4 separate regions of the Homo sapiens genome follow, and regions 1, 3 and 4 are each linked to region 2. Evidence: fine-mapped expression QTL. A gene starts in region 2. Each other region holds a variant in brackets. All regions are shown on one strand. Distances are between the middles of the regions. Region 1 overlaps SP4 (Sp4 transcription factor). Region 2 holds the start of SP4 (Sp4 transcription factor). Region 3 overlaps SP4 (Sp4 transcription factor). Region 4 holds the start of MIR1183 (microRNA 1183).

What was found.
Region 1: its variant is fine-mapped to the expression of SP4 in prefrontal cortex (ROSMAP, PIP 0.95).
Region 3: its variant is fine-mapped to the expression of SP4 in whole blood (INTERVAL, PIP above 0.99).
Region 4: its variant is fine-mapped to the expression of SP4 in CD8 T cells (CEDAR, PIP 0.90).

What each region holds. Positions count from the first base shown.
Region 1 is chr7:21,496,388-21,502,467 of GRCh38, reverse strand. The region is part of intron 5 of SP4 (Sp4 transcription factor); the gene reads right to left. Among named protein-coding and RNA genes, the nearest start is that of MIR1183, 28 kb to the right of the region's middle. The variant TG/G (reference allele first, on the strand shown) is at 3,388.
Region 2 is chr7:21,425,205-21,431,284 of GRCh38, reverse strand. It overlaps SP4 (Sp4 transcription factor), which reads right to left and starts at 3,202. Exons shown (of 6, transcript NM_003112.5): 1 at 3,027-3,202; 2 at 2,493-2,608; 3 at 442-1,996. The coding sequence starts at 3,033. RefSeq lists silencers at 2,909-3,498, 3,879-4,268.
Region 3 is chr7:21,511,976-21,518,055 of GRCh38, reverse strand. It overlaps SP4 (Sp4 transcription factor), which reads right to left. Exons shown (of 6, transcript NM_003112.5): 6 at 3,234-6,080. Among named protein-coding and RNA genes, the nearest start is that of DNAH11, 28 kb to the left of the region's middle. The variant A/TTTA (reference allele first, on the strand shown) is at 3,525.
Region 4 is chr7:21,465,454-21,471,533 of GRCh38, reverse strand. All of the region lies in intron 3 of SP4 (Sp4 transcription factor), which reads right to left. It overlaps MIR1183 (microRNA 1183), which reads right to left and starts at 476; the gene lies at 388-476. The variant CTT/T (reference allele first, on the strand shown) is at 2,299.

The sequences.
Region 1 (6,080 bases), 71 kb before region 2:
CTTGTAAGAGTCTGTCATTGCTCTTTCCCGCATTGTGGAGAGAGGTCAGAACCCCTCATTCTCTACAGGGAATATGAACTACTCCTCTTGCCTCTCCAGGCAGGGGGCAGAGTTCAATAAGCCCATGGGAGAACTCTCAACTTGTACCCACATCCTAAGCATCACAGGTTGAGTCAGGCAATGGCAATTACTCAGCTCTCCATACACCACGGCTGATGTCTGGTGGTACTGTGGGAAAAAAGGATGATAAGTTGTTACCGTCCAATTGGACTGGGACTTGTGCTTTAGTCCAGTTGGCCATTCCCTTCATCCTGGTATTCCATAAGATACCCGAAAATACACACGGCTACCAAAACCGGAGAGATTTGACGTATCTTTTGATCCCAATATATATGTTAACTCTATAGGAGTTCCGGGGGGGGGGGGGTGCCTAATGAATTTAAGGCCCGAAACCAAATAGCAGCTCGGTTTAAGTCAGCACTCTTCTGGTGGTCAACTATTAAGAATGTGGACTAGATTAACTACATCTATTATAATCAACAGAGATTCATCGATTATACTCGGGACATCCTCAAAGGGGTGGCTAGCCAGCTAAATGCCATCAGCCAAATGGCCTGGGAAAACAGGCTTGCGCTAGACATGATACTAGCAGAAAAAGGGGGCGTATGTGTTATGCTGGGTGGGAAATGTTGTACTTTCATTCCCAACAATACTGCCCCAGATGGGACCATCAGAAAAGCTTTACGAAGACCAACAACTCTAGCCAATGAACTGGCAGAAAATGCTGGAATTGATGACCCATTTATGGGTTGGCTAGAAGATTGGTTTGGAAAATGGAAAGACATGGTAGCCCTCAATCCTTACATCTCTCATAATTGTGGCAGAAGTCTTAACAGCAGTGGGATTTTTGTATTAACCCTTGTGTGGGGGGACTAGCACAGAGATTAAAACAGCTATTAATAAACAAATGCCCATGACTTAACCAGCAAAATAACCTGGTACTATTAGAAACAAAATTAAACTCAATCTCCTATGGAGAAAGTAAAAGACTTCTAGAGCAATTCAAGGACAAAAAGGATTTAGATGAAAATGAGACCGAAGGAAGTAAACAGAAAAGAGGAGGGACTTTGTGAGAAAATGTTTTAAATGATCTATTTTCAAGGCATGATAAATCTAAATATACTGGCAACCAGCCTGCGGATGTAACAAACTGCACGGCTCACGCACCTAGAAGGTCACAATGAGCAAACAGAATGTAGAGAAGGGGTCAGCCCATAAAAGCGAAGAAAGTTTCATTATTGGGAAATCGAAACTTAAGCAGGGAAGGGAAGATTACACCCTTATTAGGGGGATAATGAAACTTGGATGATGTCCGGGAAGATTGTAACCCTGTAATACTCGACCTATGAGGAACTAGGGGAGGGATTTGCATGCTAGGAGGTAAATTAACTGCTGTAACTGCCCTGGGTGTGCCTGCCTACCATACGCCCCATCTTGCAAGACCACCATTAAAAGTCTCGCTTTTGCTGTTCTTTGTGTCTCCAAGTGCAGTCTTTGGGTTCAGACAGGCGAATGTGTGTTTCCCACATTAAGTAACATGGTAAAAGGGACTGTGCAGATCTAACTAAAGTTATGGAGCTTAATATAGGGATATTATTCTGAATTATCCAGTAGTGCGTAATGTAATCACATGAATTCTTAAAAGCGAAGAGCTTTCTTTAGCTAGAATCAGGGAGATTAGAATAGTGAGGGGAAACGTGCCCTGCTGTTGCTGGAGGGGGCCACATGGACAGTATGAGAAGGAGTGTGGGCAGCCTCCAAGTGTAAACACTGGAGGCTCCCAACTGCCAGCTGGCAAGGAAACAAGGACCTACATTCTACAACAGAAAGGAACTGAATTTAGCTGACAATTCAAACGACTTTGGAAGCAGGTTTCTCCCCAGGGTCTTCAGTAAGGAATGCAGTCCTGCCAAAGCCTTGATTTTGGCTCTGTGAGAAACTGAGCAGAGCACCCAGCTGAGGCCCCTTGAACTCCTGACCTAGAGAAACTATGAGGTAATAAGTGTGTGTTATTTTAAGCGGCTAAATTTGTGGTAATTTGTTGTGGCAGCAATAGAAAACTAATCTAGTTACATATGATATAACCTTATAAAAAATTTAAAGCCCAATAAATTATAGCTGACCTAATATATGGCTCAAGATATGTAAAACATCTTCATTACAAATATCCAAAGTACGTCAAGAACAAATTTCAAATTTCATTTCTTCATGAAAATCTCAATGTATCCCAAGAAATTTTTAATAAACTGAGTATAGGAAAAAAAATGCTCCTTTTGCCTAGATTATCTAAGAGAATACCATGCTTTATCACATTAAGAAAATGTAGTCTTTTAAAAGGATTTAAATACAATGTTCCAGAAACTACATTCGACTACTTACTATTTTAATATTCTTAACAGTAATTTCCCTTGGAAAAAATTTGCTGAGATTTCAAATGGAATGATAGATTGGAATGGATGAGTGGAATAAACCAGATCTTTTAAGCTTTCTGTATCTGAAGCACCTATCAAGAGTCAGTTATCTAACTGTCAGAGTTCTGCCTATAATCTGTTTTTCAAATTGCTACTCTCAAAACTAAGCTATGACAATGTATGAAACATACTTTTTAAATTACTAATGCTATTTCTAAGTTTGTCATTTGATAATATACCTCCATATTTATAAATTAAAATTAATTTCAAGAGCAAATTAAGGTAATATATTAGTTTCCTCGGGCTTCTATAAGAAAATACCACAAACTGGGTGGCTTAAAACAACATAAATTTATTTTCTCACAGTTCTGGAGGCCAGAAGTCCAAAATTAAGATCTCAGCCCAGCCTTGCTCCCTCCAAGGACTCTAGAGAAGAGTCCTTTCTTGCCTCACCCTAGCTTCTGCTGACTGCTGGCAATCCTTGGCATTCCTTGGTTTGTAGCTGCACTGCTTCAATCCCTGCCTTTGTCTTTGCCTGGACTTTTCCCCTGTGTCTTCTCCTCTTATAAGGACATCAGCTATTGAGTTTAGGGCCCACCCTAATCCAGTATGGCTTCATTTTAACTTCATTTCATCTGCAAAGACCCTATTTCCAAATAAGGTCACATTCACAGATACTAGGATTAGGATTTAAACATATCTTTTTGGAAGAAACAATTCAACCCACTAAAGGGACATTTTTAAATGTGTGGCATTTAGAGACCGTAAGACCGATCCTTTCTCTTCCTCCTCAAATTCCTACGTAATTTGAATACAAAGATGAAGACCTTTATGAAAACCCACTTCCACATAATGAATAGTAAATATATTCTTTCTTCCTTATGATTTTCTTAACAGTTTTTTTTTTTTTTTTTTT[TG/G]AGACAGAGTCTTGCTCCATCGCCCAGGCTGGAGTGCAGTGGCGTGATCTCGGCTCACTGTAAGCTCTGCCCCTCAGGTTCCTGCCATTCTCCTGCCTCAGCCTCCCGAATAGCTGGGACTACAGGCCGCCACTGTGCCCAGCTAATTTTTGTATTTTTTTTTAGACAGGGTTTCACCGTGTTAGCCAGGATGGTCTCGATCTCCTGACCTCATGATCCGCCTGCCTCGGCCTCCCATAGTGCTGGGATTACAGGCGTGAGCCACCGCACCCGGCCTAACGATTTCTTTTCTCTAGTTTACTTTAAGAATCTGGTTTATTATACATATAACATGCAAAATACGTGTTAATTGACTATGATCATTAAGGCTTCTAGTCAACAGCAGGCTATTAGTAGTTAAGTTTTAGGGGAGTCAAAAGTTACACGCAAATTTTCAAATGCTTGAGGGTTGACTTGCCTCACCTCTGTGTTGTTCAAGGGTTAACTGTAATCATTTTTGAATGTAAGGACTCAAGTTATTCAAACTGAGAGCCATGTAGTTCCTGAAACACCCCTACCTTACTCCCAGTCTATCAGTCCCTCCTACACTCTTTCTTACCTACGCGGCCTAGAATATCTAAAGTCTTTTCATGAGTACCCTACATTTTCCAGTATCATTTACCTGGGGGTAAAAGTAGATAGTTGCCCTTGGTATACACTAGGATTGGTCCCAGGACCCCGTAGATCCCCAAATCATTTGATGCTCAAGTCTCTTATATAAAATGGTGCATACAGTATTTGCATATAACCTACACACATCCTCCCATATACTTTAAATCATCTCTAGATTACTTTTATGACTAATATAAATAGTTGTTATATTATTTTTAATTTGTATTATTTTTTACAGTTTTTATTTTTTCAAAAATTTTCAATCTCTAGTTGGCTGAATCTGAGGATGAGGAATCCACATATAAGGAGGGCTGGTTGTAATAAGGGGGGAAAGATGATAATTTGAGAGAAGTCATGCTTTAATTTTCTTTAAGTAGAAAACTGAGAGTAAGGCGAGGTTGAAGGGGAGTGACAAGGGATATAAGAAGACTTAAGGAGGTTTAGATAATAATTAAGTTAATGAGAAAACTGACAAAGACGACTAAGATTGATAGGCAGTTCTGAGAAACTGGTTGAGATTTGAGACCATGAATTTATAGGGACACCAATCTGCATAATGAGTGATTTTTCATTTTTTCCTGTAGCAATTATCAACTCAAATATAGAAGCTCTTTGGTTATTTCATTATAAATGCTTTATTTAGGCTATTTAATCCACTTTGTTTTAACTATCATCTATAAATAGATGACTACATCAAGATCCAGATTCCGAAACTCAGCTGTGAATTAGACATTTCCTGGATGTGCCACAGACAGCATCATTCAACATGTCACAAAGAGAACTCATCAACACAAGGATCATTCTAATCCTTATGATGCTTCAGAAAGAAAGAGGGGGCAAGAGCAAAACCAAGAAATGATGTCACTGACCATGGTGAAGAACCTCCAAAACTTTGCTCTTCCATAAAAGCAACAAAAACCTATGGGAAAAAAACTGTCAAAAGCAACCATTTCAGATTCTGGCAATTAATCAAGGCTTGCAGCAATCCATGGAAGTGTTTATTCAAGAAAAATGGCTGAATTTCTGTAAGAACAGCAAGCTTTGTAGTATTTTAACTTACTAGTCTCATTTTCCACTCCCCACCTCTGTGGCAGCCTTGAAAAATAACAGCCTGAATTCTTGGCACCATCTGGCAGCCACTAGAGGGGGTGGAACACAGCTGAGGCTCTTTCAAAGCCTAATTCCCAAATAATCATTCCCTGAAGACTCCACTTATAAAACTGTCATATTTAATCTGACTCTGTGAAGTAGCCCCATGAGAAATGCCTTCTCCCAGATGTAAGGCAGGGCATGTGTTTGTCTAAAACAATTAGAAGCAAGTATTTTAACTTCATGGATGCCCAAGACAGGGGATAATAATTGGGACAAACAATAGACTAACCAAAAGGCTTTAAAGGAAAAGCTAGCTGAGAGCTAAGAGATTCAGAAGAGCTTTAAAAACCTGTGACATATACACAGGAATCTAGAAGGTCATACATGTTTAGAAGGTCACACACGTTTAGTGCTGTGAGCCTGCTCAGAATAGCATGAGAAGGCCCTAACTAATCTGTGCCTAATCCTGAGGCTCTAGGTAAGCAGAAAGTGAAGGCTAAGGCAGAGATGTCAAATGACTGGCTGAGTGCTGAAGGCAAGCTGCAACATGCACACAGAACCTTTCAGCACAGGCTGAGAGACTCATTAGTTCCAAGGTGTTTAAAGAAAGAATATTTGAAAAATAGGTAAAAACTTCCCCAATTTGAAAAAAAAATAAATAAATAATAATCTGCATATCCAAGAAGCTCAATGAACTCCGAGTAGGTTAAATGCAGAGAGTCACATCGAGTCACATTATAATCAAACTGCTGAAAGACAAAGACAAAGAGAAAATCTAGAAAGCAGCAAGAGTAACTACATTTAGAGCCTTGGAAGACAATTAGCCTCTTGAGCCTTCAGTTTACTTATTTATGAAATGATGGGGTTGCACAAAATAATTTTCAGGAGTCCCTTTGGCTCTAAATCCTATTATCCTTGGCAGAGTTAACAGAAGTGTTTGCCTGATACT
Region 2 (6,080 bases):
AGTTAGCCTTATTACACCACAGAATTAAAAGTTCAACAGACTCACAATTATATATACCAATTCAGTTTAAAACTACTTTCCCTCAAAGAAGAGATAAATATCATTTCGACTAGGGTTCTTTCTGAAGAGCTGGAATGTACTCAAATAAGACCACTAAATTACAGAAGGCAATTATGATTCTAATCAGAAAGCTCTGTCCCATAAAACAATACTTTTTAAAAAACTAACAAATTTAACACATTATTATAAAATCTACAAAAGTGAACATGTCACATTGATTACTACAGAGCTATGTTTGTTAGTATAATATTGCTATTTCTGGTTCCTTATGATTGTGTGTTTACTTCAGAGGTCTACGTCAAACCTTAGAATTAGGAGAGAAAAGCAATAATTGTTATGAAAAACTATTTAAAAGGTACTTAAAAAGATGTCAGAACTTACCTGCAACACTAGTGATTGTAACGGGAACTCCCTGCACTTGAACACCTGCAGCACCCAGGTTGGCAACGCTCACTGTCTGAAGGTTAGGCACTGATGCAAGCTGGGCAGTATTCAAAGTTATTGGGGCACCAGCAACAGCCACAGGAGCAATCTGAGCAAGAGTTGTGCCACCACTTGAAGACACTGGGGTGATGGTTAATTGTTGGGATAACCCAGCATTCTGAACTTGCAAATTTGAAAGACTCTGAATATTCTGAACCTGTACAGTTTGCCAACTGATTTGCCCTGAAGGTGTTAAAGTTGGAGCCCTGATAAGCACCTGAGTCGGATTTACTGCTTGAAGTTGAACATTCTGTAAAGGCTGCTGCTGGATGGTCTGAATCGTCTGCCCTGACTGGAGTTGAAACGACTGTGGTGGAATAGCCTGAATGATCTGTTGCTGAGGCTGTTGGATCTGGATCTGCTGTAAGATAGGTTGGCCTACAATTTGCACCTGCTGAAGAGAATTTGATTGATCCTGTGCATTCTGCATTCCATTAGGCTGAAGCTGACTGGAGCTCTGGGCTTCAGACTCAGTAGCAGCAGGTGTTTGAGATTCTTCAATGGTGCGTTCAGAACTACTGGCTGATGTGCTTGCATACTGGCCAGTATCTGCTGAGCTCACTAATGTGTCACTGCTTGTCAAAGACGTTGAAGCAGTGGTTGTGCAGGTAGTGGAGGAGGAGGGAGATTCTGGCATAGTACTGGCAGAAGTAGTGGTGTTGGTGGGTGTGGAAACTAATTGATTCCCATTGGAAGTCCCACTATCAGCAGTAGCAGCAGGCTGGCCAACCTGCCCAGTCCCTCCTCCGGCAGCCACGTTGTTTATCACTGGCAAAGCTAGAGTCACTCCTCCAATGTTAATTGGTAGGGTTGTTACAACTTGAGCCTGAGTACCAGGAAGAGTCTGTAACTGCAGTGGTATTGAAACACCAGGTCTAATTTGGACCGGAACTGTCTGATTTGCCAGGTTTTGAGCAAGAATATTCCCAGAAGCTGTCCTGTTAGCAGCTGTGAGTATAGCTTGATTATTACCTGCAGAAATGAGCTGAATTTGACCCTGCAAATCCTGTAGAGATGAACTACTAGTTGGATTGATTTGAATTTGTTGACCTTCCACTGTCTGAAGTTGTGGAATTACTTGGTACTGTACACTACCACTTGGATTTTGTACTTGTATGACTTGAAATTGACCAGGGGTGGAAGAATTACCTGATTTAGTTTTTGTAGGAGATGCACTCCCGTTATTACTGCTGGAAGAACTAGACGAACTAGAGGCTGGTTGAGAAACGTTATTCTCTTTTGAAGCAGGAGGAGTGGAGGCAACAAGTTGCCAAGCGTTTCCAGCAAGTTGCGTTGTTACCAGTTCTAGCTGTTGTGGTTGATTTTGAAGTTGCACCAATCCTTGACTTGGATCTATAATAATTTGTTGTTGTCCAGTTGCTTGATTTTCACCAGGAGTCCCTATTTTGCTGCAAGTAGCTGCCAGTAAAGCCAGAGGAGAGGGCTGAGAGTCCTACCCAAAATGGGACGGTAAAGGAGAGGGGGGGGGGAAAAAAAGTGGGCGGATTTAGTGGAGGCCAGTAGTTGCCAGGGGGTTACTTATTTTGACAGCTCTACATAACAATTTAGGAAGCAGCAGAAATCAAAAAGAAATACGAACAAAAGTAGATAAGAACTATATGAATAAGGAAGCAAGTCCTATAATATCAAGTTTAAATAAAAGGAAATTTCTTTACAACTTTGTAAAGTGTTATGTTCCTAAACTCAAAATGCCCTTGGGAACACACACACCGTTTTCTTATAGTCTGAATTCCTGATGTAATTTTAAACAGCGTTATACCCTCAAAGAGGTGAAAACTTGATGAATTTACAATTTAAGTTCCACACTCTCAGAAAGATGCTTTGAGTGGATAAACATTTTATTCTGTTACTTCTGGACATTCAAAGGGCATAACTCCCTCTCTCTCCTAATGTGTCGTGATGAATTTTTTTAATTTGTTTGCTTTTACCTGGGAGCCTGAGGTTTTGGGTTTTTTATTGTTATTCTCTGGCTCAGAGGTTTTCCCTCCTTCTGTAGCCATCGCCGCTGCCGCTGCCGCCTCCTCCTCCTCCTCCTTCTTCTGATCTGCAACAAACCCCCCCACCACACACACACGACAACAGGTTATTAGGATTATTATTATTCGTCTTCTTCCTCTCCTCTTCTCCCCCCTCCCCCCGAACATTAATCTCCATAAACCCGCGATCCACGCACACCGGCAGGGGGTGGGGGAGAAGGAGGGAAGGGAGGAGGGGGATATCACAAAACGTGGTTTGAAACCCGACCCATCGGCTCCAGAGCAACACCCAGAAGGAGGTTGTTCTCTCTCAGACATTAAGACAAAACACAACCCTCCTTCCCTCCCCGATTCCCTCCCGCCCTCTCCTCCTCCCCTTAAAGCATCTCAGCGGCCCCGGGGGAGGGGGGAGAACCGAGCAGGGTCTGGGGAGGGAGGGAGAGAGGGAGGCGGCGAAGGAGACTGAGGGGGGTGGAGAATACGTACCGCTCATCCCGCATTAACAGGACAAACCCTCAGACGGAGACACTGGGATAGAGGTGGGTGGGGGTGGGGGCGAGGCGGGAGGAGAGGCCGGTCCCGCCCGCCCGCGGTGGCTCGGAGGAGGCTGTAGCTGGCACAGGCTCTGCCTCTTTTTCCGCGAATGGCCGCCGCTGGGCTGTGGCGTAGCAGCTCCTCTCTCCGCCCGAGCCCGGCTGACTCGCCCTTGATTGACAGCGGCGGCGCGCGGCGCGGGCGGCGGCGCGGGTCGGGGGCGGGGCCAGGGCGGTGCGAGCCTGGCCGACTCCCCACCCCCCTCGGCCTCTCTCCGCCGGAGCCTCCGACTCTCCACCCCTTCCCCCAGCGGATTGGCCGCCGACCTGCCGGGGGCCGGGGCGCTGGGGCCGCCTCCTCTCCACCCCCTTTCTCGGGGTTATTCCTTTAGCAGCTCTTCTCCTCCTCCCTGGCTCCTCTGGCGCTCTTTCTCTCGGCGTTCTAGCTCAGGAGCGCTGCCGGTAGGCCCTCCATACAGCCAAACTTGTTGTCTCAGGATATCCCGCCCCCTACTCATTTCCCAGCGCCCTCCACTCAAAAACCCCCTCCAGCAATCCCTCCAATTGCCACTAAAGAAAAAAGTAGGGCCCTTGATCCAGGCAAGCGAGAGCGGCGGACGTGGGCGCGCGCGGACCACCAACAGGTCGGCGCGCTGGGTGAACTGCCCGCTGCCCCCGCGCAGGGAGCATGGCTTTCCTGAGGCGCATCCGGACCCGGGCGCCCTTTTTCCCTGGCTCTGTCTCCATTGGCTGAGCCCAGGGTGACGCGCGCTGAGTGGTGGGAGAAAGGGGGTGGGGCACTACCGCGAAGGCTGTCGGTACTCGTAGTTTCCGGCGGTCGCGGTGCCTTCTTCGAGGCACCGCCTCTCTCCCGCCCCCGACCGAGGCCTGGCTGCCGAGCGGAAAGCTGCCCGAGGGGGCGGTGGCGGCAGGGCGTGGCCGGGGCCGAGTGGGAGTTGAACTGAGCGAGGAGGAGGGGGAATGGGTGTTGTTTGCCTGGGCCTATCCGCCGCGCGGGGCTGCCCAAACCACCTCTGCCGCCGCCTCCTCGGCTCCAAGCCGCTCCCCGCGGGGCGAGCTCACACCCGGAGCGCTCGGCGATTGAGCGGGCGGCGGCGTGGGGAGGCGGGGTTTGCTGTCCTCGGGGTTTGAATGAACCCGGCTTCTTGAAGCAGCGCCCTCGCCTTGCCTTTCTTTGCTCACCTTCCCCTCAGGCCCCCTGCTTTGAGTCCGAGGCCTGTTTTCTCACGGAGAAGGATCTTCCATTTTTATTTGTTGTCTCTCTGGCTGGCAGCTGGTGCAGAGCAGTGACCCGCCTTCTAAGAAGGGTTGCATCGCGTTTTGCCTAAAAGCCTAAGTGGTTGGCGGAGTTCTAAGCCTTATCTGACAAGAGTCTCCGGGCGAAGAAAAGCCCAGCTCCATAAGGGTCAGCCCCGCTTACGGTGTAGCGTAAGCAAGCGTAAGGGCAAGTGGAATTAACATCTGGCTGCACAAAGCATCTTACTGTCAAATGCACTTGAGCAGTGTCCTGCCTCAGCTTTCCTACAAAGTCCTGAAGTCAGGATGATGCCATGGAACGTAATCAGCGCCTGATTAACTGTACCAAAGGTGGAAGTGACCCCACATGTAAATACTGGCCTTGGGAACAAGGCATGCTTACACCCCAGGCTCAAAGCCATTGTCTCACTTCTTACCTGGGCTTCACACTCAGCCTTGGGCATTTTTGTCTCCTGCCTGAGGCCTGACATGTTGCAATGGTGAGGAGGTCCCAGATGCTGAACTTGACTGGCATTTCCTTTGCTTGTTAAGGTAATTGCAAAATCAGCTGATGACAAAGCCATGCAGCAAGACAAAGCAATTCGAATAAAGAATTACATGGTATTGTCTACCCCATCTTATACAATGAGCCAGAGATCCCTGAACAACGTGCTTTTTCCCCATCGTGTACAATATAGAAAGCTCAAAAGTGCTTCTTACATTTACGTATATACTGTCTCTATCCTCAGGTCCCCTCCTCCTCCCAGTTCACCAAGATAAATGAAGACATTTTGCAGTCTTATGAATTGGGGCTTTCATTGTCGTTTTCGTTTGGAAAACCTGCTTCAGAGAGGCAATGTCACTGACTCTGAACCATAGATTAAAAATAATGCTTCGGGAGGCCGAGGCGGGTGGATCAGGGGGTCAGGAGTTTGCGACCAGTCTGGCCAACATAGTGAAACCTTGTCTCTACTAAAAATACAAAAAATTAGCCAGGTGTGGTGGTGTGCGCCTGTAATCCCAGCTACTCGCGAGGCTGAGGCAGGAGAATCGCGTGAACCCGGGAGGTGGAGGTTGCAGTGAGCTGAGATCACGCCATTGCACTCCAACCCCGGGCGACAGTGCAAGACTCCGTCTCAAAAAATATATAATAATAATAATAATGCTTACCATCAGTATGAATCTGCAAAGTCCTAAATATTCTCCACCCTATAGATAAGTGGGAATACTGGTATCCATGAAACATAAGTCCTGCTTTTTATGGTGGACCAAAGTCTTCTAGTCCCTGGCTGTTATGGACTGAATGTTTGTGTTCTCTGCCCCCTTCCCCATTCATGTGTTGAAATTCTACACGGGGCGCGGCTCACTCCTGTTATCCCAGCTCTTTGGGAGGCCAAGGCGGGCGGATCACTTGAGCCCAGCAGTTCCAGACCAGTTTAGGCAACATGGTGAAACCCAGGCTCTACAAAAATTAGCCGACGTGGTGGCGCTGTCCTGTAGTCCCAGCTTCTTGTGAGGCTGAGGCGGGAGGATCACTTGAGCCCAGAAGGCGGAGGTTGCATTGGGCCAAGATGGCACCAGTGCACTCCAACCTGGGCAACAGAGTGGGACTGTGTCAAAAAAAAAAAAAAAAAAAAGAAAGAAAAAAAAAGGGAGAGAGGGGAAAGGGAGGGAGGAAGGAAGGAAGGAAAAATTCTACCCCTTAGTGTGATGGTATTAGAAATTAGAAGGTAGGGTCTCTGGGAGATAA
Region 3 (6,080 bases), 87 kb before region 2:
GCCAGCAGAGATGCCTCAGCCTTGCAGGGCATTATAAGTTTAGACATTTATTCTATATCCTATCTTATTTCACAAAGAATCTAAAAAGCAAAGTAAAAGTAGAGCATCCTATTATCCTTTTCTGAACCAAGTCTGAGAGGAAGTTGTCTAAGAAACTTTTGAACTCCACATTCCATGTTTTCTTTTTTTGGCTGCAATTTGGTAGGTAGCTGAAAAGAGGGGTACATTTGCCCTGTATGCCTGGGTTTATTTAACACATATATTTCTAAATATAGAGAATGCTTTTAAATATAGAAAATCATCCACACATAAACCCACAAAAGTTAGTGAACAACACATGAGCAGCTGTTTCTGTTTTTCAGTAATTGGTTTGCTTCTTGTTCACCGGTGTGCTTGTCTGTTATCACTTTGAGGTAGGCAAACAGTAATTGTAATTAACATTTAAAAATTAGGAATTAGGCCAGGCGCAGTGGCTCATGCTCGTAATTCCAGCACTTTGGGAGGTGGAGGCAGGCGGATCGCTTGAGCCCAGGACCAGCTGGGCATGGTGGTGTGTGCCTGGGTGACAGAGTGAGACCTTGGCTCAAGGGGGGGGGGGGAAGAAAGTAACTAAGATTTAAACCTTTTATTTTTCTTAGAATTGGAAAAAGACTGTCATAAAATTTTGAGGTAGAGTATGGCAAAGTAGCTCACAGTTTGAGAAAAATATGTTTGAATTTGGAAATTCCCACTGAAATTTCATTTTTAAAATGGGATTTGAGAATTAACTTTTTGATGTATTGTTGCCCATTTTCAAGACATTTCAGCATTGGTCCAGGTGGGAACTATTCCATGCCCCCTGCTATGGTCTGAGCAGTTGTGCCCCCCAAAAATTCATGTTGAAACCCAATTACCAATAATATTACCAGTGATATTAAGAGGTGGAACCTTTGAAAAATGATTAGATCATGACAGTAGAGCTCTCATGAATGGGATTAGCGTCATTACAAAAGAGGCCCCAGAAAGTTGTCTTGTCCCTTTCACCATGTGAAGACACAGCTAGAAGTCACCATCTATGAACCAGTAAATGAACACTGAATCTGCCAGAATCTTGACCTTGGACTTCCTAGCTCCGAAGTGAGAAATAAATTTCTGTTGTTTATAAGCTACCTAGTCTAGTTTATCTTGTTATAGCAGCCCGAATGGACTAAGACACCCGTCTGCCTTTTGGGTTAACTTATAATTAACAATAATAACGTATTAAACACAACTATGTGTTACTCAATATAGTTTTCTTGTTTGATCTTAACAGACCTATGTATTATTCATAATGCTTAACATTAATAAGCATTGCTCTTTTATTCTATGAAGTAGAAAAAAATAAGTGCTTAAAAGTTCAATAACTTGCCCACGGTTGTGTGCCTACTAAGTGGCTGAACCAGGAATCCAGCCTGAAATCCTCAGACTCTCCGTTGATCTCTTTTGGCACGGTGCTTAGCTATTAACCAGGGAGATCAACCCACTGCATTATAAATAGGCCTTTATGCTCCTTTTCCTTTCCTTTCTCTCTTCCTTCCTTCCACTATTTCTGCTTGACATTACTCTCAGGTATCCAAAAATAAATTATTTCATTGCCACCTGTTACTAAGAGGAACAGAGCCCAAGGTTTATGCTAATCAGCCAATCTTAAAAGAATGGAAAATACATGCCTTAAAAGTCCTGCTACCGAATTACAAGTTGGTTGTGTGTATATTAAGCAGACATTACTGTTCAGGCAGTAAATATAGCAATATATTATTCAGTTTCACAAAGGAATAAAGTATTTCAAGTTTGCTGTGACACTTGAAGTCTCTGCACCCCTGAAATTAAGCATCTGAACTTTTAATTAAAAAATAAACAATACTGTATATTTTTCTATTTTCAAGTTGTCATTACCAATGGCATTGTAAACCACACCCTATTAGTATTGCTTTTAGCACTGCTTCAGCTTTCCTAACTTACTACACCAACAGCTTTTGTCAATTTTCAAGGTGATTTATCCCTTTTTCTTTATTATTGTCTTTTTCATGTGGCTGAAATTTCTAGAAGTACAAGAAGCAAACTATATTAAAAATTGAAAAACACAATGACATTTTCTAATTGCATTATCCTTTTTTTTGAGACAAGAGACTCGCTCTGTTGCCGAGGCTGGAGTGCAGTGGCGTGATCTCAGCTCACTGCAAACTCCACCTCCTGGGTTCAAGCAATTCTGCCTCAGCCTCCCGAGTAGCTGGGACTACAGGCGCACGCCACCACGCCCGGCTAATTTTTGTATTTTTAGTAGAGATGGGGTTTCACCATGTTGGCCAGGCTGGTCTTGAACTCCTGACCTCGTGATCCACCCACCTCAGCCTCCCAAAGCTCCGGGGTTACAGGCGTGAGCCACCTCGCCTGGCCTGCATTATCCCCTTTTATACGATATCATCCTGATGCTTTCTAATGCGAATTTTTCAGGTAATTGAAGTGTATCTTTACTTTGGATAGAAAACATCCTTTGACAATTCCTTACTGTCTTATTTGACAGAGTAGCATAAATTCTTTGATTCAGTCAGTGTTATGAACACATTATTTTACAAAGTTGTAACACAACTATGCCTTTAGGACCTTGCTGTACAAGGTTCTCTGTCCAAACACCTTGTAGCCCCTGCTTACTACCTAAAACCTAGAGTCTTTGGAGTCTTCTGTCAGTGGGCCAGCGTACTTCTCTTGCTGCCTAACATCCTACCTCCGCCACCCTGGGCCAAACCCTCGCTTTGCTATGTCTATATCTGGTGTGAGTCTGGAAATGTGTTAGCTGAAGTTGTTACAATAATGTATTCATTATGTTACTAAAGGTCTTCATGAGATTTGCAGGGCTCTCCCAGGAGGAAGACAGTTTCTGCTTGTAGTCTTTGTGGCATCTATGTGGCCTATATTGCTTCTCAGTGATTCTGTGAGCTTAAATAATATTTTAATTATGTTTTTCGTTTTCAGGTCTTCCTATAATTTCCTAACATTGATTGCTTAAAATATTTAAGTAAAAAGTGTCTCTAAATCAAATTTTAATTTCCATAAATGTCTAGAGCAATGGCTACAAATTAACATGCAATTTGAATTGGAGTTCTTTGGCGGTATGTTCAGAGAAATGGTGACCAGATCTCAATACGAGGAATTACGAACGGTGGCCAATGTGTTCTCCAGTGAGAAGCATTTAACTCTCCAGTGTTCATGATAAGTAGGTTGATAGTTCAAATAATTTATTGCTGCTTTATAGTATACATAATTAAATGAAACATGTTAAACTCAAGGGAATTTTTAATAGGTTACTTGCAATTGTTATTGCAGGCAACAACTTGTACATGATTTTATTTCCAAATCCACAAAAAACAAATTTTATACAAATCAGCACTGTAAAAATGTCAATTACAGCCCCAGAGGCTTTGCTGGCAGAATAATTGTCTAAATTCTAGAATATGGGAAACAGGTTTTTTTCTGGATTCATCTTTTTTTTTCATTTTTTTTTTTTT[A/TTTA]CAAAAAAAATTTACAAGTGAAATGTTACTACAAAACTTTTTATAAGGAATTTTTGCAAAACATTTACATTTTACCATCAACTATTTCTGTTTTAAAATCATTATGTAGATTTAATACCCTATGCTGCACATCAATTTATGTGGGATGACAACTTAGTGACATGCATAAAAAAACACCACAAGGCATTAAAATGGAGACTTAAATACAAATATTGTTGCAATAAAACAGTTATAAAATTGAAAAATAGGACCTAAACATCATGCTTATCTAAGTTTGACAAATTAACTTTTTCTCCTAGATTACACACTTTTATTACTGCTCTCATGAGAGTGTGATAAATGACTTAACATCAAGTTCTAATGTAATCAGCAACACATACACAAACCTAACCAAAGAAAGTATACTGTAAGAAAAAACTATTCTAACACTGGAGTTTTACCATGATAAATACATAGCTTTGCACTGATAATTACAATAAAGAAAAGTTTTATAACGGTGGTAAAGGGAATGAACAGTGAAATGCCATTAAACAAGACTCTACTGCACATCTGTGCCCTATTACTTATAACAGCTATATCCCACTGAGTCAAATAAAGGACACTGAAATTTACGATTCTTCTAAAGACAGAAAAGTAGACTCAGAATGGTATGCAGAACAGACTGTCAAAATATTTCTAATTTCAGTGGTGAAATGTGCACCTGCTAACACAAATTAACATATTTTATATGCTATAAAGCTATCTAGATTCATCTGATAAATTTATAATAGGCCTCATTGTTGATTAAAAAATAACTTCCATTTCTAATGGACATACATAGGTTTGCATTAGAACTGGTTCATGGAATAATGATGCAGAGTGTTCATACTTGGTATTAACAACAACAAAAAGTGTCACTCTGAGGAAACATGATTAAAACATTAAGAAAGTTTCTTTGCATAAAAAAATTTATAGCACTGATTGTGTAGCATAATGATAGATAAAATATATATTTGATGTTTCAGCTCCTATATAATAAAATTAAAATGAACACTACCAAATGCTCCTCTGTACCAAACAAAACAACAAACCAATTCTGATGTTTTAAAGCCAGATACATCAGTTGTTAAGAGTACATTAAATAAAATATACAAAACAATTTACAAAATCCAACTTAAATTTAAAGACTCTGTTACAAGTCTACAAAAGCTTTAAGAAACTTGAAATTTATAACCACAGTGTAAAAATTTTTTTTTTCCTTTAATCTCAAAGCTTTTTTATACAAACTGAAAGCACAAAAGACCTTCAGTTTTATATAACGCTACAAAGGGCTGGCCTAAAGTGTACATAGTGTAAACAGTGATCATTACAGTATTTCTCCTTCATCAAAAATACAAGAAACATCACAATTTTGGAAGAGAATTCGCATTAGTACTTTTCCTGAAATTATAGAGAATGCACAAGAAAACACGTACCTATATTCAAACAGTCCCCAAAGCAATGATGTTAATAAATTGAGCAGGTAGGTAAAAACTTTTAGTTTTCAAATGGTCAATTTCACTGATTATGATTCTGTGTAAATACTTTTTTAAAACATAAAATATCCTTATTAATATTTAAGTTACTGGTTTATAATCCAATTTTTTTCATATGAAACTTTTGGCCATCTTTCCTAGTAAGACCCTTTCCTAGCCGGGCATGGTGGCTCATGCCTGTAATCCCAGCACTCTGGGAGGCCGAGGTGGGCAGATCACCTGAGGTCAGGAGTTTGAAACCAGCCTGGCCAACATGGCGAAACCCTGTCTCTACTAAAAATACAAAAATTAGCCAGGCATGGTGGCAGGCGCCTGTTAATCCCAGCTACTCAGGAGGCTAAGACAGGAGAATCGCTTGAACCTGGGAGGCGGCGGTTGCAGTAAGCTGAGATCGTGCCATTGCACTCCAGCCTGGGCAAGAGAGCGAGACTCCATCTCAAAAAAAAAAAAAAAAAGACCCTTTCCTGTAAGACCCTTGCATAAACAATAATATAGTTTTTTTCTTTAGTCACTTACTTCACTGAAAATTATTCTGCCTTTTCAAAAATAAAAGTTTTGCTTCATAATATATCTATTATATATTAGGCTAATTTTTAGGGAAAATTCAGTTATTGATGTAACATAAAAACATTACTGTGTTATAATTCCTAATTACCTTCTTACATAGCACTAGAAATAAAATGGGACTGGCCAATTTTTAGTAGAGGAAAACAAGAATTACAATGTAGTTAAAAGAGAATTTTCTGCTGGCCTTGGAAAAAAGTGTAATTCTTTCTTTGGCTACCACATCAAAGCATAAAGAATTCTGCACATTGTCAACATAACTCATATTTACAAAATATGAAACTACAGAACAATTTACACTCTATGCAAATATTTCCAAATATAAACATTTTAAATGAAATTTTGTGGTTCAACCTAGGGTTAGGAATATAATCAATCCTAACTTTAGAACATTGCATGTTAAGATGCCTCATTTTATTTTTCTGAAGCTATGATGAGTTTTGTTTTAACCATTTTTTTCCCAGCATTTTCCTAAGGT
Region 4 (6,080 bases), 40 kb before region 2:
GAGAAAACTAAGGTTCTCAGGGGTATGTAAAACATCCAAGATCCTAAAATGGAAAAGTGACAGAGCTGGGATTTGAACCCACACTTATCCAACTCAAAAAGCTATTCTCTTTCCACCATATACATTATCTATGTTGATCATAAGTCCCTGTTAAGTCTACCTCTTCAAAATATCTCAAATGTCTCCATTTTCACCATACCTATTGCTTGTACACTAGTGCAAGCCCTTATCACCAGTTTTGCCCCTTCTAATATTCATATTGCAGACCTAGCTCCCCAAAAAGCCAATGGGCCCTCCATACATTCACAATAAGGTCAGTATTTCTTAGCATAGTACATAAAGTTCTTCATGATCTAACTCCTGCTTAGTTTTATAACTTCATCTCTTGGCACTCCTGCTCCATGCCCACTCTCACCATCACCTACAGTGAACTCCTGTCTTCTCTAATGTTCTGTGTCTCCGAGCATTTGAATAATATAGCTGGAATCCAACACATTCTCCCACCCCAAACCTCCATCTCCCTTGGTCTGACAAAAGTCTATTCATCTTACAGATTTTAGTCTTTAATCCTTCTTACCAATGAAACTGCTTTGTAAAATAATTTTTTTAATAACTCAAAATTTCTTGGTATTGTAACTACACATTATGGTGAAACAGACTGAGGATGGCCGTTCTTTTATTTTTCTTCCACATTACCAGAGGTAAAACATTCCAAGGCTGCTTGGAGCAGCCAAGCCATCTTTCTTATTCCTTTTTTGTTCTGCTTTTTTTTTTTTTTTTTTTTCCAAATATAGAAACTGGGCCAAGGTAATGGAGGGGGACAGTTTGTTGGTAGGTAGTAAGACATCTGAATTGCTAACTATTCAACAAGATCTAGCTTGTTGGACATTTCTTGCTCATTTTCTTTTAGTACCAGTAGTTTTTTGCCTTAGTAGAGTAGTAAAATTTGAGACGACTTGAATTTAAGCTAACACGTAGAAAGGAAAGTCAGGTTTAGCTGGTAAAGGAAAAAGGCATATTCCATATAGAATAACCTAGTTCTCTGGATTGTGAGGCAGGGGCCTATGCCTAAGCCAACAAATTCTAACTTGAATTTTGGTATACCTAGCTCCCTAAGGGATCTCAAGAATTGGTTGAATTAGAATTTAAGTATTTCTGGTCTTACTAGTAAGACACCATCTCACTCCATCATAATATTAGTCATAAATTATTTCCAACAAAAGCTGCTCAAGAAAGAGGCCATCTGTGTGGTTTTTATGTCATTTGTCCTTTGGCTACCAAGGTTCCTGACACACTGAAAGTACTTAATGAATGTTTCTTAAATAAAGCGAATGATAATCTAAAATCTATACAAACATAGAAGCTTTCTTACGAAACTCGGCCAGCAGTATATCACAGGGCTGCTAAATGACAGCTAGTTTACAATACACATGCACATGGGTGACAAGACAGTAAGAAACCAAATCAAGTGGATATCTGCTACACTTCCTCCCTGACTCACTGATATGGCAGTCAGATCATTTAGAAGCAGATCCCAGAGCATAACTCTCAACCTTGGTTCTGAAACTATGTACTACTCTCTCAGGTATCAGATTTCTCCTATGACATTTGCTATCTACATTCAGCAAGGTGTTTTTTTTTTGAAAAGAGTATTATAAAAATATTAACTCTAAAAAATTATAGGCCCAGCATGGTGGCTCATGACTGTAATTGCAGCACTTTGGGAGGCCGAGGTAGGTGGATCACAAGGTCAGGAGTTTGAGACCAACTAGTCCTAGCCTGGCCAATATGGTGAAATCTTGTCTCTACTAAAAATACAAAAAAATTAGCCGGGTGTGGTGGCGGGCACCTGTAGTCCCAGCTACTTGGTAGGCTGAGGCAAGAGAATCACTTGGATCCGGGAGGCGGAGGTTGCAGTGAGTGGAGATCTCACCACTGCACTCCAGCCTGGGCGACAGAGCAAGACTCCGTCTCAAAAAAAAAAAAAAAAAAATTATAACTAAACTTGCCATTTAGGGAATAGGCTAAGATTTCTCCCTTTCTACCTATTTTGATGAAAATAAATAGTTTAGTATTACAAACACATACACTTTAAGTTTCTTTTTCTTCTGATTTTAAGAACAAAGCATGCTCACCATAGAAAACTATGAATGAGGAAATGAAATCATCCAGAAAGTAATTACCCATAGATTACCACTATTATCATTTTGATGTGATGATCTAAGTTCTGTTTTAATCTTTGTTCAATGTATTTTGATGCTGATACAACTTTACTATATAAAAATTCTGTATTATCCT[CTT/T]TTACTTATTTAGTAATATAAGTACTTCTAAGTTATTAATATTACAAATTATTTTAATAGTTGTGCAATATTTCATCATATACCATAATTTACAAAGCCATTACTGTACTGTTAGATATTTATTTCCAAATACTTATTATAAGTAACATAAAGTAATGAGCAACTTGAACTAAAATATTGTTTATTATTTCCAAGGGATAGTCCTAGAAGTGAGATTACTAAATCAAAGGACATGAAACATTTGTAAGACTATCTAGATTATAAAATTACAGGAGTATATATAAAGAGCTGCATTCATTTACATTTCCACCAGAAGTATGGGAGAATGCTGTTTCATCTCATGGAGCATGAGAAATTCAGTAAAATGTATAAAATCATTTAATAAACAAAAAATTGGATATCTCACTGTAGTTTCTAATAGAAGTGATTACTGCTCTCACCTCTAATACTGTACATTTCCTTAAGGTCTAAGCCAATGTAGTAAGGCAAGAAATAACAGATCTATATAAGAAATAAAGACTTAAAAGGAAGTAACGAAACTGTCATGATTTACAAAAGATATAATTATATTACTTAGAAAACTATAGAAAAATCAACAAATTATTATAATATGACATCTGTACATCAGCGAGATGGCCAAATACAAGAGCAACATAAAAAAGCAACAGTTCCCAACCATATCAGCAACAAACAATTGAAAAAGAAAAAAAAAAAATTCCATTCATAATAGCAACAATAACCACAAATATCTGAGAAATCAATCTAATTAGTAATATGCAAGATCTTGAGGAAGATTTAATAAAGGATATAAAACAAGACCTCAAAAGAGAGAAATATATGTTCTTGGATAGGAAGAATCATTAAACTAAATGTGTCAATTCTTCCAAAATTATTCTAGGAAGTGAATGCAATCACAAATTTAATTCGAAACTTTTCCATGAAAGTCTGCTAATTTGACATGTGAAAAATCAGCTAAGAAAAGTCTGAAAAAGCAGAATAGTAGAATAAAGATATGTAGGTAGCTACAGTAATTAAAATAAGGTGCTGTTAGCTTAGGAATAGGGACAGAAATGAACACAATTTAAAACAGATGCGTGTGTGTACACAAAATAATCCAACTGTGCCTTATTTCTTCTTTTGGAAAAGACGATTTGCAAGGTTTTTTCTTATAGTAAATAGTAAGTAACATTACTCTGTAAGTAAGACAGATCCGCAAATTTGAAAAACAAAACTATTTATCTATCTACCTATAAATAAACTCACCAACCAATAAACTGAAATTGACCTATTTAATAATAATCATACAGCAGGTTCAAAGTACATGTGTTTCTTAATTATGTTTTGTGCATATAACCTAGGGAACAAGGTTTTCTAATATAACTGATCAGGAAAAACAAAAGCTGTTGATTTCTATGATACAAAACTTGCCATGGGGGGCAGTGGGATTTTTTCTGTTCTGAATAATACTAAAATGATTCTTAACTGAGCCTACCTAGATTGACTTCCTTTACAGATTAAACTTGGAATCTGCCTAAGAAAATGTCTAAGGTCCTCTCAAAAAATATGTCTCCTAACATTGCAAATAACTTTCAATAAACACACTCTAAAATAGGATTTGGTTTACATAATGATCTGACTTAAAATAAGCAAGCAGGATGTATATTCCTAAACATAAAAAGATAACCAAATATGCTTAGGGCTGGGGAGGATAGAAAGGAGAAATGGGGAATGACTGCTAATAAGGGTTTCTTTATGAGGTCATATAAATGTTCTAAAACTAGATTGTGGTGATAGCTGCAAAACTCTATCAATATACCAAAAGCCATTGAATATACACTTGAAGTTGTTGTATAATATGGTATGGATATATATAAATAAAGTTGTTTTTTTAAAGGTAACTAGATTTAAAAAAAAATTTTTTTTTAATTCTACTTTTGTTGGCTCTAAGTACCTTTAAGCCAGTGGTTCCCAAATGAAGGTAATTTTGCCTTCCAGGAGATACTCAGCAATGTCTGGAGACATTTTTGGTTGTCACAAAGTGTGAGATTACTGGTATATAGTGAGTAGAGGCCTGGGATGCTGCTAAACATCTTACAATGCACAAAACAGACCCCAAAAACAAAGAATTACCTGGCCTAAAATGTCAATAATGCTGAGATTAAGAAATCCACTGAAACTCAGCACTGGAATAACTCAACTAACATTTATGCCTCTCATTCATATCATTATAAACAGCTATAACAAAACATATGAAAAATTAAAATATGGTACATTTGTGTGATCCCTATAAAAACTACATGAGTCTCCACAAAAACAGAAACTATATGACTGAATTAAAGCCTTTGAAAAGAGAGCTACATACATTTGGGAATAGGCTGTGACAGTTTTGACAGACATATGACTAGAGAGATTCCATGGTACACTGGTGGTAAAAAAAAAAAAAATCCTAGATTTGAAAATTATGCTTATTAATTACAAAATACTTCTTTGCCTTATGGAAGAGCTTCAATGACATGTTTTCCTGTAGATGAACTATAAATGAAAATATTAAGAAATAACCGAGTACCTTCTGTATCTCTTAAATGAAGGTGAACCCCATTAGCCAATGACTTCCAGGACTATCAACATACTATGGGTTATGTACAATCTGTGAACCAATATTGAGTTACTGAACAGGCGCAACAGTTTAGTAGAGCCGAAAGTAGAACTTTTGGGTCAAGCAGACCTGTTTCTGAGTTCTGATTCTCCCTGCAGTTTCTTCCTTTGAGGACCTGGGAGCTGTGGGAGTTGACTGAAATAGTGTATATAGCACACGTCTTAGCATAATGTCTGGAATATGATAAACACTCAAGAGGAATGTTAACTCCAGTAAAACAAACTGCAAATGTATTAAGTACAAATACTTAACAGCCATTCACATTTCCTTAAGTCCTAGCACTTTGGATGTGGACTTAGTATAGAAGTGAGATTTATTCATACAGCAAACTTCTACTGAGTACCTGCTATGTGCTTAATGCTGCTGGAGAAATGATAAATAAGATCTGACCAGAAGCCCTCACCTGTAGGGAAGACACACTCAAATAAATAATTATAATATGCACAATAACAAAAATGTGCATAAAATGCCTACTTAACAGAGAGGACAGTGATTTACTGTCAAAAAGAAACAATGAAGGCTTCACAGAGGAGATGAATCCACTGACAGGTGGAAAGAATAAAGGCAAATGGGAAGGCAGTGGGAAGGCTATATTTAAAGACATAACCCTGAGACAGCATACCACTGGAGATTAAAGTTCAAGGAGGTGAGGGGGCTAAAGATAGGGTTGGAAGGATAGATCAGGAAGGGCCTTAATTAAACCTTTTTTTTTTAAGAGACAGGGTCTTGCTCTGTTGCCCAGCCTGCAGTGCAGTAGTGCAATCATAGCTCACTGTAATCTCAAACCCCTAGGCTCAAGCAATCATCCCGCCTCAGCCCTCTCCAGTAGGACAACAGGCAAGTGCCACCATACCCAGCTAAATTTTTTATTGTGACAAGGTCTTGCTATGTTGTCCAGGCTGTCAACTTCTTAAAGAAGGGACTTTCTAGGGTAGGAGAGAGGGAATCCTTGTTAAGGTATTATGCCCATCCTTCCCATCCCCAATCCAGAATACCTGCCACACAATAATCACTCGCACTTACTCAATTTACTAAATGGCTATAATCGAACTAAACTATTTTACACCTATACTTTGTCTAATGCTGTCTTCTAAGATTTGGGGAGGTTATGCATATTTCCCAAG